Linked DNA regions of Homo sapiens: region 2 is linked to region 1. Evidence: fine-mapped expression QTL. A gene starts in region 1. The other region holds a variant in brackets. All regions are shown on one strand. Distances are between the middles of the regions.

The links. PIP is the estimated chance that this variant, and not a neighbour inherited with it, causes the effect.
Region 2: its variant is fine-mapped to the expression of LIN52 in whole blood (INTERVAL, PIP above 0.99). The same link has a PIP of 0.9 or more in blood mononuclear cells.

What each region holds. Positions count from the first base shown.
Region 1 is chr14:74,080,465-74,088,797 of GRCh38, forward strand. LIN52 (lin-52 DREAM MuvB core complex component) reads left to right here and starts at 4,492. Exons shown (of 6, transcript NM_001024674.3): 1 at 4,492-4,529. The coding sequence starts at 4,511. It overlaps ALDH6A1 (aldehyde dehydrogenase 6 family member A1), which reads right to left and starts at 3,989. Exons shown (of 12, transcript NM_005589.4): 1 at 3,883-3,989. The coding sequence starts at 3,930. It also overlaps a transcript of BBOF1 not described here. RefSeq lists enhancers at 4,401-4,580, 5,521-5,610.
Region 2 is chr14:74,199,015-74,207,347 of GRCh38, forward strand. LIN52 (lin-52 DREAM MuvB core complex component) reads left to right here. Exons shown (of 6, transcript NM_001024674.3): 6 at 1-2,479. Among named protein-coding and RNA genes, the nearest start is that of VSX2, 36 kb to the right of the region's middle. RefSeq lists a silencer at 3,159-3,359. The variant A/G (reference allele first, on the strand shown) is at 3,642.

The DNA of each region.
Region 1 (8,333 bases):
TTAGGTGATCCTCCTGCCTTAGCCTCCCAAGTACCTGGGACCACAGGTGCACACGACCTCGCTCTCAGGCTCAAGTGATCCTCTTGCCTCAGTCTCCCAAGTACCTAGGAGTACAGGCACATGCCACCATGCCCAGCTAATTAAAAAAAATTTTTTTTTGTAGAGATGGGGCCTCCCTATCTTGCCAGGGCTGGTTTTGAACTCTTAGCCTCAAGCGATCCTCCTGCCTGGGCCACCCAAAGTGTTGGGATTACAGGCATGAGCCATCACACCCAGCCTACTCTTAAACTTTCTGAATCTAGTTTCCATCCCATAATCAGAGGGTCTTTCTGAAACATAAATCTGGTCAGATTATTCCCTTGTTTAAAATTCTTCTTTGGCTTTCCACTGCCCTTGGAATAAAGACTAATCCCCTTGATGTTGCTTAGAAAACGCTACATAGTATCTTTGCTTTTCTAGTTACATAACTGGCTACTTTCCTCCCTGTTCTCTATGCTCCTGCAATTTAACGTGTGTCTTGCTTTCTTTGCTCTTGCACATGCTGCTCTCTCTTGCCTGGCACTGTTTCATCTAATTTCCTTGGCTCATTCCTACTCCTTTAGGTCCCCACTCAGCCATCATCACTTTCTCTAGGAAGTCTCAACCTCAGGTCTATGGTAAGCAGCTGATTGTGAAGCTCATAAAGCACCCAAATTCCTTTATTTCTCATCTCACGCTATGAAATAATAGCTTGTCTAATGATTAACTTTCTCTCCTTTGAGGTCACTAGATTGTTGTGTCCCCAGCCCCTAGCACAATTCCTGGAAGAGAGTAAGTACTTAGTAAGCAATATTTTGCACAATGAAAGAATGAGTACTCGCCAAGCAATCATTTGATATTGTTTCAGTACTCTCAAGTTGGCAGACAATGCACTGATCAGCCAACTTGAGCATTCTAGGCCACTTAAATTTTATTTTTTCACTTGTATACAGCCTCCCTGCTGTTAAGAGGATGTAAAAAGCACTACATCTGGTATAATAGAACATATTCATATAGTTTTTTGACAGGTTCGATCTTCTATCTTTTCTTCATTTCCTAAGAAACACCCATTAGCATTGTTGCTGAAGAAACTATCCTGTGGCCAGTCACCCCAAACTGCTGCTCTCTAGATGTTTACTTCCTACTTGCTATATCCTTTATAAGGAACTCCTTCCTCTCCTGGTTCATGGCCTGCTAGTCCTGCAATACTTGGCTCTTTCCCTAGGTCCCCACAGTATCCCAGATACTCCTATTGTTTATCACTTATTGCAGTACAATAAAGGAGCTTTCAGTGAGCATTTTACTGTAAGCCTATGTCAGTGCCTAACATAGAAAGAGATGGCAAGACTTAAGTTCTGAATTTTCAGCCCCATCAGTTACTAGTTCGGTAACCATATCACCGACAGTGCAAGTCGCTACATCTCTTCAAGAGTAATTTTCTTGCCCAGGTGCAGCGGTTCGTGCCTGTAGTCCCAACACTTTGGGAGGCTGAGGTGGGAGGATAGCTTGAGTTTAAGAGTTCAAGACCAGCCTGGGCAACATGGTGAAACCCTGTCTCTACAAAAAATACAAAAATTAGCTGGCATGGGGGCACGATCTGTTGTTGCAGCTACTCGGAGGGCTGAGATGGAAGAATCACTTCAGCGTGGGAGGTCGAGGCTGCTGTGAGTTGTGATTGCACCACTGCACTCCAGCCTGGGTGACAGAGCGAGACCCTGTCTCGAACATTCCTTTATCTCTGCATGGGAGTGATAATATCACAAGGAGCAGAGAGAGGTTTTAGGTTAAGTTTGACTACTCTTCGTGGCAGAGAAAAATAAGCTGAATACTTAAAATAATTGAAAACATTAACTTTCTCCTCTATAAATCCTTTTGATAGTTCTCTAATATTCATGGCTGCCAAAATCGAGGTTTTTTTTTTTTTTTTTTTTTTTTTTGATGGAGTCTTGCTCTGTCGCCCAGGCTGGAGTGCAATGGCACGATCTCAGCTCACTGCAACCTCCGTCTTCCGGGTTCAAGCGATTCTCCTGCCTCAACTTCCTGAGTAGCTGGGATTACAGTCGCCCGCCACCACACCCGGCTAATTTTTGTATTTTTAGTAGAGAAGGGGTTTTACCATGTTGGTCAGGCTGGTCTCGAACTCCTGACCTCAGGTGATCCACCCACCTTGGCCTCCCAAAGTGCAGGGATTACAGGCAGGAGCTACAGCGCCTGGCCCGTAGGCTACTTTTTATCGAACTTTTAATCAAAGATTCACGTTACAACTCCTAGTTGGCTGAGGATTACTCTATCTGTTCTTTTCCAGGTCACTTCAGAAGTTTCTCCAAATGAATCAGAAAATACATAGTGTCTGTTTCTGAAATAAAAGTACATGGAAAGAGAGATTCTTCTCCTTGATGGAAAAGGACAAAATACTTTCTTAAGGTTCTCAATGACTCATTGTGATGGGAGGGGAAGAGGAGGCAAAGGAAAAAAGCCAATTTCAGTAAAAGATTTCAAGAAGTTGGTAAGAAAAATATAGGGTGGAAACTTTGTTTTCCTGCTACTAAAAAAAGATACTAGAACAGAACAAGGATCGCAGCAAGAAATATGAGTGAGGCCAGACCATCTGCCAAACCCTTCAAACTCATCCTTTCTACCTTCCCCATTAAATAGCATATTTAAAAATGAATCTTTGCTGACTCTGCCAAGAATCTTAAAACTGCCCAAGTTTCTTTACTAGAACTCACGGAAACCTGGTGAATACTAATATTACCTAAAAGCTCAGCAATATAGAGGAAATTCTCAGACTGGATGTAATGAATAAGAACGGCACTGTTGTTTCTTGCAGACTGTTTCTTGCCTGCGGTAAATCTTGCCACATACTCTAAATCCTTGGTAGGCCATGAACAGGGGAAAGACTATAAACAGAGTTGGAGATTACAGGCCTCAGGCATGCAACTCCTGTAGCTTTACCATTTCTCCTTAGGTTGGCTTCAGAGAGGACTCAATCCCCCAAGTGCAGAGATGAGGGTGTGTAGCACTAGAAGAGCTGATTTTGGGGTGGGAACTTAGACTTCTTGTCTTACCTGGCTCCCACTTTCTATCACCCGTTTTAAAGATGTTTGGTACCTTGAACATACATGGAACATACTGGTAGCTTTAACTGTGTGCCCTTATCTACCCTATCTATGTAGATGTGCCCTATCTATGTAAACTGTAACTTAGCTGAGAAAAAGTTTAACTCAAAGTTTTGGCAAGAAAGGGGACAGCCAGTCCATGGAAAATACAAAGAGCCACACTTAGGGAAAATAGCTTAGCAAATGGCTGCCTTTGGTGAAAATCTAGAGTCCACCTCTAGAAGGAAATTCAAAGTTCATACACTGACCCTCGCCCCTCGCGTCCCCCCTCCCCCTTACCTCAGATCACCACGGATAGTGAAGTAGGGTGGGGGAAGGGAGCAATGGCAAAGTGGACGCTCACGGCAGGGGACAGAGTAACCAAAAAGAGTAGTTTCTGGGGGAGAGAGAGAAGGCTGGTGCAGAGGTAAAAAGGAAAGACGGTGGGCGGATGGAGAGATGAGGGCAAGAGAGTGACAGCAGGGAGCGGGCAGAGCTGGAGAAGGAGAGTGGGCGAGAGCCAGAAAAGAGGAGGCTTAGGAGTAAAAGGGTAGAGGGCCAAGGGTAACAGCCCAGGGTTGGATCCGGGACCAGGGAGGTTATGAAGTGAGGGCTGGGCATGGGACAGGGCCGCACAGGTCGGGTAGGAGGTCTGGCCAAAAAGGGGTTGGGCCAAGAAGGTGGTCCCGCCCGAGGATGGCTCAGGGAGCGGACGGAAAGGATCCAATTCCTAGCTTCATGGTGCCTTGGCACCACCCTCACTCGCCTGCAGGATCCGGGCTCGCACTGCCGCCGCCGCCAATAGCGCCGCCATGGCTCTCGGCCGCCCTAGCTCCGCACCCCGCGCCTCTACTGCCCAGAAGCACTACAGCTGCCAGGCCTCGCCCTCCATCCTGCCAGGCTTCCTCATTGGTGGGGAGGACTATTTTCTCCAGCCAATCACTGGTCCGAACACCTGATTCCTCTCCTCACACCCCCGTCCTGGGGATAAGTGATTGGTTAGGAGCGAAAATGCTCTCGCCCTCTGCCACCTCAGCCAATGACGTAGGCGGAGGTAGAGAAGACGCCCCTGACTTGGACACTCCCTACCGAGCACACGGGGAAGACGCCCCCCTAACCTGGAACTCCGATTGGCCAAGGGCGGAACCGAGGCCCCACCCCCCCACTGAAAAAAGTAAATAAGACCCTTCAAGAATTTTGCAGTCGCTCCACCTCAACATCCGCGTAAGGGGCGTGGCTATACTTAGGGGCGGGGCTAGGCAAAGATTGCCCTATGAGGCGAGGGAATGAGACTGGGCTGCGAGTTGGGGATAGGGTTTCTCTTTGGGGGCGTGGCTTATGGAACCTCGTTTTCCCGCCGACGGTTGGCCACGTCACGTGACATGGGTTGGAAGATGGCGTCTCCCACAGACGGTAAGAGCCGGCTTAGAGATCTTTGCCTGCAGCCTCCTTCTTTGCTCTACTGGGAACATCCACTCTGTCTCTGCCCCTCGAACATACATTTCTTTCTTGGGCTCTTCTCCTTTCCCTTTTATTTTTTTTCTTGAGATCCATCGCCGTCTTCAGCTCACCGGTTCTTCACAGCAGCTCCGGAGGTGCCCAGTTTCCCCGCTCTGTACCAGGCGTGTGGAGGAGGGCACTAGGGAGGGACTCATTCTGGGTAAAAGGACAGGGGGGTCGCCCTGTGCCTTCCTTATCTCTATTTGGGCGAGGCTGAGGGTCGAGGAGGAGATGTTTCTGGAGGACGTGGCTTACTGTAGTTTTTTCCTTGGGGTACCCATTGAAAGGATCAGTTCTCTTCTGATTGAGCGCACGGATGGAATGATTCTCACAAACCCTCGCAGGGCTGCTGGCTGACCTCATCTCGATACTGAACCGCAAGAGAAACATGATCTCTCTCCTGTCTCCTCAGTTTGGGACCATTGCCGTGGCAGCAAGAGAAGCGGGGGACGTTCTCGGCCCCTCGCCCTGAGAGTCGCGAGGAGAATCAGTATTGAGCTTTTAAGTGTCGTCTTGCACAGGTCGCAACCTGTCTTCCATCTGCTTTACGTGTTGTTTCTTAAGGCTGAGTGAATTAACGATTTCTGTTTATATATTGTGTAAAATGCAAGTCATTTCAAGTAACAATTAAGTTGTTTTGGTATACTCCCATGCTTTTCCTCTTGGTTCTGCTTTAGAGAGTTAGGGTCTTGCAGTCATTTTTAAACTCATTTTTAGTTCTACCATCCTCATCCCAACTATATATCGATTTTATTGATATATAGGTTTCCTTCCCTTAGACAAAAACATTTTATATTTGGAAGGAATCTTGGAAGTTCATTGCAGGAATGAAGAAATTGAAGCCAAGGTGAGCTATATTAAGTACCTGCTACATGAAAGGCATAATGCTAGGTGCTTTGGGAGACCAAAAGATGACTCAAACATATAAACATTTTTTTTTTTCAGTTTCAGTTCTCTTTTTAGATGTCACCTCCCAAAGAGTCTTTCTTAGAACACAGTATCTGGAGTTGCCCTTTCCCACCATTATTCATTATCTCAGTATCTTCCTTGTCAGCATAGTTACTCTGTTAACTTTGCCCCTTTTGCGCTAGATTGTAAATTCCAAGTTTGTCTTGTTCATAGTTGGATCCAGGTTTAGCACAGTGCCTGACGAACAGTAGGTCTTTAATTAACATTTATTGAAAGATTGATTAGATATATGCAGAAATAATATATTACTTGATCTTAAGTTTTAAGTTTAACCGAGTCTTAAATTTTGTGAGCGCAGGTACATACTGTATTAGAAATTATGGCTGGGCGTGGTGGTTCACACTTCTAATCCCAGCACTTTGGGAGGCTGAGGCAGGCAGATCGCCTGAGCTCAGGAATTGAAGACCAGCCTAGACAACATGGTGAAACCCCATCTCTACAAAAAAATACAAAAATTATCTGGGTGTGATGCCACAAACCTGTAGTCCCAGCTACTTGGGGGGGCTGAGGCAAGAGAATCTCTTGAGCCCAGGGGGTGGAGGCGGCAGTGAACCATGTTCATGCCACTGCACTCCAGTCTGTGTGACAAAGCGAGACCCCGTCTCAGAAAAAAAAGAAGGAAAAAAAAAGAAATTATGGATGTTTGGAGTCAAAAGAGATTCTCCTGCCTGGGTGCGCTCTTGCAAAAATGTCCTTCTCTTGCCAGAAAGAAGGGCATTTAAAAAGTCAGGCAAGGGAATAGGGAGTTATTGTTAATGGGTACCAAATTTCAGTTTGGGAAGGTGAAAGAATTCTGGAAATGAATGTGATGATTGCACAATTAATGTACTTAATACCACTGAAATGTATACTTAAAAGTTATTAAAATGGTAAAATTTATGTATATTTCACCACAGTTGAAAAAAAAAGCCAAGTAATACAAGTAGAAGTAATTGTTATTAAACTTTTTAGTTTATTTTTAAATTGTTTTTACAAACTTTGGGGATTTTAGAGATGTGTTCCTTGAGTTTGATTTTTTTCCCCTGTCATCTCTCAATTTAGTTTCCTTTCTTTGGCCAGGAAGAGTATTAAAAACATTAAATTTGGCTTGGCGTGGTGGCTCACGCCTGTAATCCCAGCACTTTGGGAGGGCGAGATGGGTGGATCACGAGGTCAGGAGATCGAGACCATCCTGGCTAACACAGTGAAACCCTGTCTCTACTAAAAAATACAAAAAATTAGCCAGGCGTGGTGGTGGGTGCCTGTAGTCCCAGCTACTCAGGAGGCTGAGGCAGGAGAATGGCGTGAACCCGGGAGGCAGAGCTTGCAGTGAGCCGAGATCACGCCACTGCACTCCAGCCTGGGACAGAGCGAGACTCCATTGCAAAAAAAAAAAAAAAAAAAAAAATTAAATTTTTTTCCTTTTCTAGCCATCTCTATGGTCACTTTATTTGCACTCTTGATTTTTAAGTTTTCATTCTCATCTCTTACAAAGTTTCACTCCTCTCCACCTAATGTTTTCTTTTTAATCTGAAAAAATCAAGTCAAGCACTTTGAACTTAAATTCAGCTTCTAAATAAGTATCTCATTCCAAAATATTCCACGGCCTAGCTCTTTCACTTCTATTTTTAGTGTTCCACCTGTCACTGTCTTTAAAATTTAATTCAGATAATATTTATTTTAATATGTTTGTCATTTACTCTTTTGTCTTTTTCGTGATAAATTTGCTGGAGCGTCTTTGAAAAGGAGAAAACTGAAATTCAAATACAGCCATCTAATTACTTAATTTATGAGAGTAAGACTCACAGCAGAGTCTGAGTTCTATCCCAGACTGTGGTATCATAAGGTCACCCATGTAGGTTATTAGATTGTACCCCCAATAATTTTTTTTTAACTTTCTTTTAGAGACAGGGTCTCTCTCACTCTATTGCCCATGCTGAAATGCAGTGATATGATTATAGCTCACTGCACCCTCAAAGGCTCAAGCGATTCTCCCATCTCAGCCTCCTAAGTAGCTGGTACTATAGGCTCACACCACCATGCCCAGCTAATTTATTATTATTATTATTTATTTTGTTTTGAGACGGAGTCTCACTCTGTCACCCAGGCTGGAGTGCTGTGGCATGATCTCGGGTCACTGCAACCTCCGCCTCCTGGGTTCAAGTAATTCTCATGCATCAGCCTCTCCAGTAGCTGGGATAACAGGCACACGCCACCACACCTGGCTAATTTTTGTATTTTGAGTAGAGACGGGGTTTCACCATGTTGCCCAGGCTAGTCTTGAACTCCTGACCTCAGGTGATGCACTCACCTCGGCCTCCCAAAGTGCTAGGATTACAGGCGTGAGCCACCATGCCCCCACCTTATTATTTTTTGTAGAGATGGAGTCTCACTATGTTGCCCAGGATGGTCTCAAACTCCTGGGCTCAAGCAATCTTCCTGCCTCGGCTTCCCAAAGCACTGGGATTCCAGACATGAGCCACTGTACCTGGCCCAATAACTTTACTTTTGTTATGGTTGAACATTCCTCAGAAATCGGTAACAAAGAGAAGCTAATTTTTGGATGCTTTAATTAAGGCAATGTATTAGTTGAGTTCTTTACAATTAAAATGCCATTGGAAATTCCTTTGGAATATTTGGCAAAACAAATTCAGTTTAGAGAAAAGTACATTTTGTACGTATGTATATTTTCTGGGGAGTGAGTTCATTTTATTTCCCAGATTTCCAGAGATGTGGTTACCCAGAAAATGTTAAGAACTGCTGTTTATA
Region 2 (8,333 bases), 120 kb after region 1:
CAAGCTCCCTTCCCGGTGCACCTCTAACAATGCACACCTCACTGCTTGCTTGGGAGAGGCCAGAGGGTGTACCTCCAGGACTGCCCTCTCCCCTGCTCCTGGCACTCTACACGTCTGAGGACATTCAGCAGCAAGAGAAGAATCTGCTCTACCCAAGGATCATTGCAGTTACTCAATCAACTTTCAGACTTGAACCTTCTTAGCCTCGGATATTGGTAACAGCTGAGGGCATATCATTCTTAAAGGTCGAAGTCCTGCTTTCTCATTTCTGGAAGTGATTCAGGAGCCCCAGGATCTTACGGTTGATTTGACTCAGTCATGGCAGTCAGTTGTGACATGTTGATTGGATGGGTTCTTTTGAATTGTTCTTGATCTCTTAGAAAGTGTTTACGATGTGAGGAGACCAGAGACCAAGTAGATTCTGGACCAGACCATGCAGCCTGACCTGTGAACTCTCCAGTATATACTAAGTTCCCAGAATCCCCAGCTGAAGAAACCAGAATCTTCTCGAAATGTATATCTGTTTTTTAAAACTTCTATACCTCTTATGATAGTCCCATTTGCTTTTCATTCCTTACTTCCCAGCCCCACCTTCTAGTTCTGACTTCGGGCAGAGGGATCCCTGAGTCCCTCCTGGAATTAGCTTGTATAGTGAAAGGCCCATCCAAGGTTGTCTAAAGACCAATGTGAAGGTGACAGAAAGGACTTTTGAGTTCTAATTAATCTGTTACAGCTTCAAGCAAGAAAGTCAGTATAGCCTGAAAGACAAGAGAAACGGGATGGTTTATAGGAGTTCCCATTTGGTTGAAAGCTAGAAGCCCTAATTGACCTTAAAGTAACATGCTATGGGATGGTGGGATTGTCCCCTCTGACAGCACATATGAAATAGTTCATCTATATAATAGAAACGCACACACACGAAAAAGAATCTTCTGACTTAAATACAACTTTCATGGAGTTCTTCACCACTTATCTGTCTCTGTTAAAATCTGAAAATCTAGCCCATGGCTAAAATCTATTATATGTGTTCTCCATATTTCTTGTATAAGCCAGTCCCCAGCATCTGATGTTTTGAGAAGTGCATGGAGTTTCCTAAACTTTGCACAAAAGAATATCCTGGGGCCGGGCATGGTGGCTCACGCCTGTAATCCCAGCACTTTGGGAGGCCGAGGCAGGTGGATCATAGGTCAAAAGATCGAGACCATCCTGGCCAATATGGTGAAACCCTGTCTCTACTAAAATACAAAAATTAGCTGGGCATGATGGTGCATGCCTATAGTCCCAGCTACTTGGGGGCCTGAGGCACGAGAATCGCTTGAATTCGGGAGGTGGAGGTTGCAGTGAGCCGAAATTATGCCACTGCACTCCAGCCTGGGCAACAGAGTGAGACTCTGTCTCAGAAAAAAAAAAAAAAAAAAAAAAAAAAAAAGAATATCCCTGTGGCAATAGTCTGATGGTGTTTGGACACAAGAAAAGTTATGGTTTTGAGTCGTGAGTGTTTGCTAGGGCATGGCACTCTTCAGTTTAACAGCTGATCCATTAAACCTTTTCTGACATTTGTGCCTTGTTCTCATGCTAGAATTAATGCTGGATTTTTCTCTCATTTGACCATCAATGTAGTTTTACTTATTGAAAGGAAAAAAGACTTAACACAAGATAGGAAAGATGAGTATGAGAAGTAAAACATTCTGCTGGGGTGCTACATAGAAGGTTAGGTTGTAGGGGCTTTGATTTTAATTTAAACTTATTATCGATTGATATTTCTGTATCTCACTAAATGCGGTTGAAGAGTGTGTGTGTGTGTGTGCGCGCGCGCATGTGGCCAAAAAATAGTGCCATAATGTCAAATTCTTCCTTTGCTCTGTTTTTGAGAGTTGATGACATCAGGCACTTTTCAGTGTTTGGGGAAATTGATTGGGATACCTCCCCCAAACCAACTCAAGTCTGTAACTGGAAGCCAGGTGGTTGGTTTTCTGGTCCGCTTTGTCCTCTTTCTTTTACCGTCATCCTATTCACCAGCACTTAATGTAAGTAGATGTTTTAGAATTGCAATATTTATTGGTTTAGTATTTGTCATCCTTAGAAATGTTAATGATGTATTTTTATATTGATAATATAAATTTATGTACAGTATGTGTGTATATGTATTTCAGGATGTTATAGTATTGTACTTTGTATGTGATGGTTTTTGTGTCTTCATAATAAATATGTCCCTTTTACAGGAGGGTGAGTTTTTCCTCAGAGGGCCGAGTTGGATATTTAAAGCACAGACCTCCCCAGAAAGTACAACTGTAATGATAAATAATCTACTGTTTTCCCCCTTAATATACTTAATGGATAGTTGGGGGCTTTACAGTCATCTACTTGGTCTCCTGCCTTCCATTCTATCCTACCACTGCCCAACACCCGAAAGTAGTATTTAGAAACCCTTAATACCTTCCCGTGTCTACTAATAAAGTCTCAATCTCTTGACCCGGCATTTTAAGACTCTCTACATGTAATCCTAAGCAACCCTTCCGTTTCGTTTTCTTCCTCTCCTATATATGAAGTCTCTGTTGCAGTTACTCTGAACAGTTCCCAGTTTCTCACTTGAGTGCCTTTGCTCCTGCCTTTGAGTTCCTAGAAGGTCTTGGATCCCTTTTGCATCTGGCAAACCTATGCTTCCTATAATCTCCTGATGATCCAGCTGGAAATGGTCCTTCCCCTACATTCCTATAGCATTTACCCATATCATCCCTGTGACTCTTACCATAGTCTGCCTTATATTTAAGTGGTCTGAGTACTTTTTCTTTTTGAGACAGAGTCTCACTCTGTTGCCCAGGCTGGAGTGCAGTGGTGCAATTTTGGCTCACTGCAACCTCTGCCTCCCGGGTTCAAGCGATTCTCTGCCTCAGCCACCCTAGTAGCTGGGATTACAGGTGCATGCCACCACGCCCAGCTAATTTTTGTATTTTTAGTAGAGACGGGTTTTTGCCAAGTTGGCCAGGCTGGTCTCGAACTCCTGGCCTCAAGTGATCCTCCCGCCTCGGCCTCCCAAAGTGCTGGGATTACAGGTGTGAGCCACTACGCCTGACACTGAGTACATATCTTATTGCCCTACTAAATTCAAAGCTTCTCAAGGTATAGCTGTCTCCTGCACATCTAGTTCTTCAGTGTCTTTGAACTAGGGGTTCAAAACCTGTTTGCTTGCAGGCTTCTGGTTACACATGATAGATTGAAAACAAGTATTTATCTGCCATCTTCTAAATCCCTTAGTGTGGGTTCCTTTTCAACCATGTTCAAGAACTAGAAAAGAGGAAGTACTCATTATTGCTACTGCTATCACTCATTGATAGTTTACCTGCTCTGGACCAGAATATGCCCTTTTAAAGAAAGCATTTCATTTTAAGGAAAGCAAATTGCTTCTCATCATAGGCCCATCATTTATTTCCAAAAAAGACATCTGGATGAACAGTAGATTTCTGTGATCTAGAAAAGCATGGCTGATTGACTAAGTAGGGACAGTGTTAGGAGTGTTCTAAGTCTTTAGAGACTATTTTTACGGTAAGTAATTGTTTATTATTTGCCTACAGATATTTTTTCCCTTTTCCTTTGCCATTCCAAATACCATCCTGTAAAGCATCTGTCAGCTGTGAGCAGCA[A/G]CATTCTGAAAAGCATAGTATTGGAGCTTGGAGACACATTTGCAAATTCTTATTGACATTTTTTTCTTACCAGCACTCTCATTATTTCTTGCTGTCTTCAGTCTCACAGATTCTAGGCCTCTGCTGATTTGCTTGGCCTGCCTTCCATAGGTTAGAACACTTAAAGTTCACAGGGTATTAATTGTGTTGATATTGAAATGCCATCATTCATTTTTATCTTTCCATTTTTGTCATATTTTTTAAATGGATGCTTGCTAACTGCTCCGTGGTTTTAGTTCTCTAGCTGCTCTTCTGGATGCTCCCAGATCAAGGCAGTGAAAATGGAACTGATGAAAGTCATTCCCTTGTCCCTGTGGCTTCAGAAGTGTGTTTGGACTTCCACAGGAGCTTTGAAATGAAGCCGAGAAATTTCATTTCCAGTGGGATTCCCTGACCCCTCCTGTTTCCTCCAGGATTAAGACATCACAAGAAGGTGAACAGGCAGAGCAGGAAGTGAGGAAATGGACAGTTGGGCCAAGGTGGATGGTCGCAGAAGCCAAATAACACAGTCTCTTACCAGTTCTCAGCTTCTGCACTAACTCCGTCTCCAAGAATTTGGTTATGTTCTCCATTTTCTGTTTTCTTCATCTCGTGAGAGCTACAAGGATACCTGGTCCCTATGTGGGCTTTGTTTCACCAGAGAGTCTTGCAACCCCCAACCCCAGAGAGTGGCAAAGGGTGGTGTCTCCACGGTTGTAAGTTCTGATGGACTGGAACTGATTTTTCCTATCTATGTAGGCTTTTTGGCATTTGGGGTGTGTGTCCTTGTCTATGCCTAAAGAGGCCACTGGCCTTCCCACCCTTTGCCTGGCGCTTTTTCCTCTCGAGCAGCTGGGGGCTTCAGACGATACCAGGTGTAACTGTGAGGCTCCTGGTTGGCGTGAGTGCTGGCAAAGCCTGTTAATTAGCACAGAAACACCCCAGTGCTCCATTAGCTGGGCCAGGCATTTGGAACCTTCCCCTCCTGTGGGCCCCTTCCTCCTAATGAGAGCTGGAAGAAGGGCCCTCACAAAACACTGCCTCAGAATAATATTCTGCTTTGTCCCCACCAGTAACCAGGGCTGACAGGATCACTCTGTCCATTTCTCTTCTAATTAGCACAATTCCAGCATGGCCTGAGCCAGCAAATAGAGAAAAGCGATCAAAAGCGATCGGACAACCGTACCGAATCACAAACACAAAGAGGGCCATTCCCTGTAATTAGGTGAGACAATTCCTCAGTCTTTTCTCGGCTGGAGTTTGCCGCTAAGACTCTTGCTGTTTGGGTCCCAGCAACACAAGTTACATGTCTCCCTGGGACACTAATAAGCCCCAAATTGTCTTCCGCTTCACACAACTCTACCCAGAGGACAGACATGGGGTGGTGGGGCAGGTGGCGGGGAGGGGGTGGGGCAGTGCAGTGAGGGGACGGGTCTCCCAACAAGCAGCTGCTGCAATGTTTCCCCAACTTCAAGAAGCAGACACTGGGGCTGTGGGCAGAGAGGTAAGAGTCAGTTGGCTTGAGAGAACTGCTCTTGGCACAGCCTGGCCCCTGTCACTTGAGCTGGAGTCTGAAGCACTGAGAATTTCTGACCCTCAGGGGAAGCCCCCTCTCAGCTATTTGCCCTACTCTGTTCATTCGCTGCCTCCTGTCTATGGCCCCCTCACTCCTCCCACCTCTGCAGACTGGTAGCATCACTCCAGGAACTACATTGAGCCCTTCACAAACTGTAAGCCCTACACAACTATAGTTACCATTGCAAAGAAAGCTAACACACAGCACGTGAGTGAATTCTGCCCTAGAAGACTGCATGACCTGGAAGGGGCACCCACTGCCCCCCTCACTCTGGCCTTCATTTCTAGCACCCATCACCTTTATGTCCCTGATTGTGTCCCCAACCCCTGCCTACTATCTCCTCTCTCCTGAAAGATCCCTGTTTTTTTAAAACAGAAAAGTGGCCCATCTGCCAGGGCAAGAAGCTGTAACTGGCCGCGCTCCATGTGGCTCAGAGGTTGGTCACTTAATGAACAAAAACAGCTCCCCCAGGATTGCAGCCCATTACGGGGATTACTTGGGGCGATACAGCCGTAAACTTGGTCATAGCCAGGGACAAAGGAATGCAGGGGAGAGTGGCAGTTGGAATCTCAATTAAACCCAAGTTCGGAGCAGAATTGGGCTCACATATTTTCATCTCTCTCTTGCCCTCTGCTTTCTGTCTCGATCTCTATACCTGATGTTTCTGAAAGTGACCTCCAATACCAAAGGAGATTCAGTTATGTAGAATCTGAGGAGCCAAAAAACTCAAGTAATCAGAGTTGCATTGTTTTTCTACCTTCAGTTTTCTGAGGCACAGAGAGGATAATGATAAGATTTGACTTTTAAAAATAACTTTTGGGACATGCCAAAGAATTGATCCAAATTTGTTCAATTTCCTACAGTTTCTTTGGTTATAAACAGAACTACCTGGCACATAATAGGTGCTAAAATAAGCATTTGTTGAAAGAATGAACTGTGCCTTGACATTCGGTGTTCATAGCCTCATTGCTGGTCTAAGATATAGTAAGTGCTTGGATTTTGAGAGAGAGGCAGGGGTGATCTTGTGTAAGTTACTTCTCTCTAAGCCTTGGTTTCCTTAGGACTTTTTCCACTTTAAAGAGTCATATCAGCATCATGGATAAGGGCACAGGCTCTGAAGTCAGGCTGCCTGGGTGCAAATAGCACCTAACTACTAGGGTAGCTGTAGAGATTAAACGAGTATTGCAAAGTGTTGAGAATGGTGCATGGCATATCTTACCCATTACGTATATAATTGCTTGATGGATAGATCTATAAAACAGATTCCATGTAGTATTTAATTTTTTATTATACTCACATTTGTTAAAAATTGACAATCCCTAGGCCGGACATGGTGGCTCACACCTGTAATCCCAGCACTTTGGGAGGCTGAGGCGGGTGGATCACTTGAAGTCAGGAGTTCAAGACCAGCCTGGCCAACATGGCAAAACCCCGTCTCTACTATAAAAAAAAAATGAAAAAATACAAAAAAATTTAGCTGTGCAGGGTGGCAGGTGCCTGTACTCCCAGCTACTCAGGAGGCTGAGGGAAGGGAATTGCTTGAACCTGGGAGGCAGAAGTTGCAGTGATCTGAGATTGCACCACTGCACTCCACACTGGGTGACAGAGTGAGACTGTCTCACACAAAAACAAACGACAAACAAAAAAAACATTGGCAATCCCTATAGGGAAAATATAGTAACTTCTGGTTACCTTGACTAGTCAGTTAAGCAGAATACCATTTCTGTAACCCTTCAGAAGAGCTGACAGTTTACTATTTCTCCTACCCCCATCCTTCCACCCACTGAGGCCCTGTGCCAGCATGGACACTCAGTAGAAACCATTGTTGACTCTACAGACAGTGGCATTAAGCAAGGGAGGGAAAGGTATACTTTGTGACATTGGCAAGTTTCTGAACTGATACTGAACTTGGCATACATAAGCCTCAAATCACTGTACTTTGCTAATCTTTGTAGTCCTAGTATTTTCTGAGCATCCATGCTTTTCCAATCACTGCACAGGAACACACTTCCCTGTTTGATTCAGTCATAACCTCCTACCCCTAACCCACCAGTCCTCCACATTCCTCCAGATAGTTTTCTTTTTCCTTTCCCTTCCCTTCCCTTCCCTCCTTCCCCCACTCCTCCCCCTCCCCCCTCCCTGCCTCCCTCCCTCCCTCCCTTCCTTCCTTCCTTTTTTTGGTGAGACAGGGTCTCCCTCTGTCACCAAGGCTAGAGTGCAGTGGCACGATCTCAGCTCGCTGCAACCTCTGCCTTCTGGGCTCAAGCAGTCCTCCTGCCTCAGCCTCCAAAGTAGTTGGGACCACAAGCACGTGCCACCACATCTGGCTAATTTTTGTATTTTTTGCAGAGATGGGGTTTCGCCATGTTGCCCAGGCTGGTCTCGAACTCCTGGGCTCAAGTGATCCGCCCACCTCCGCCTCCCAAAGTATTGGGATGAGCCACTGTGCCTGGGCCAGATAGTTTTCTATGGTGTGAGATTTGTCAGGTTCTCGCAAACCTGTCAGGTCCCTTTCCAGGACTAAGCAGGGTCCACTCAGGCTTCTGCTCCCGCAGCAGCCTCCTCTGGGCTTTGCCTTCTCTGGGAGCCCATGGAGAGACCCTCGCCTGACTGCAGCCTGAGGCCTCAGGGTCAAGCGAGGCTGAAGGTCACATCCCAGGGCCTTTCTGGACGCAGCCAAGCCCCAGGAGCCAAGCTGGCCTGAGCCAGTGACTTCACACAAAGGAGCAGCTGAGAAGAGTCAAGTTGGGAAAGTCAGTGACTTGAGGCTGAGTAGAAATGAGAAGTGCTGGCTGTGGCAGGACCCATGAAGGATATGTGAGGATTGGAACCAGAAATGATCTCTGAGGAATGGTGGTCGGGGGGCTCATGGGGAAGCAAGGTCCTGCGAGCTGCTTCACCTTGGCCTCCTACTTCCCGCCATCCACCTCTGCTGCTGCTGCCTCTGCCTTCAAGTGGCCCAAAGGCTGTTCAGATGTGCAGCTGTTGAGTAAATCATGGTACATTCCCGTAGCGAACTGCCATGCAGCCATTTGGTGTGTTTGCAAAGAGGTTATGATATCATGGAAGAAATGGTTTTGTCATAAGGATAAGTGAAA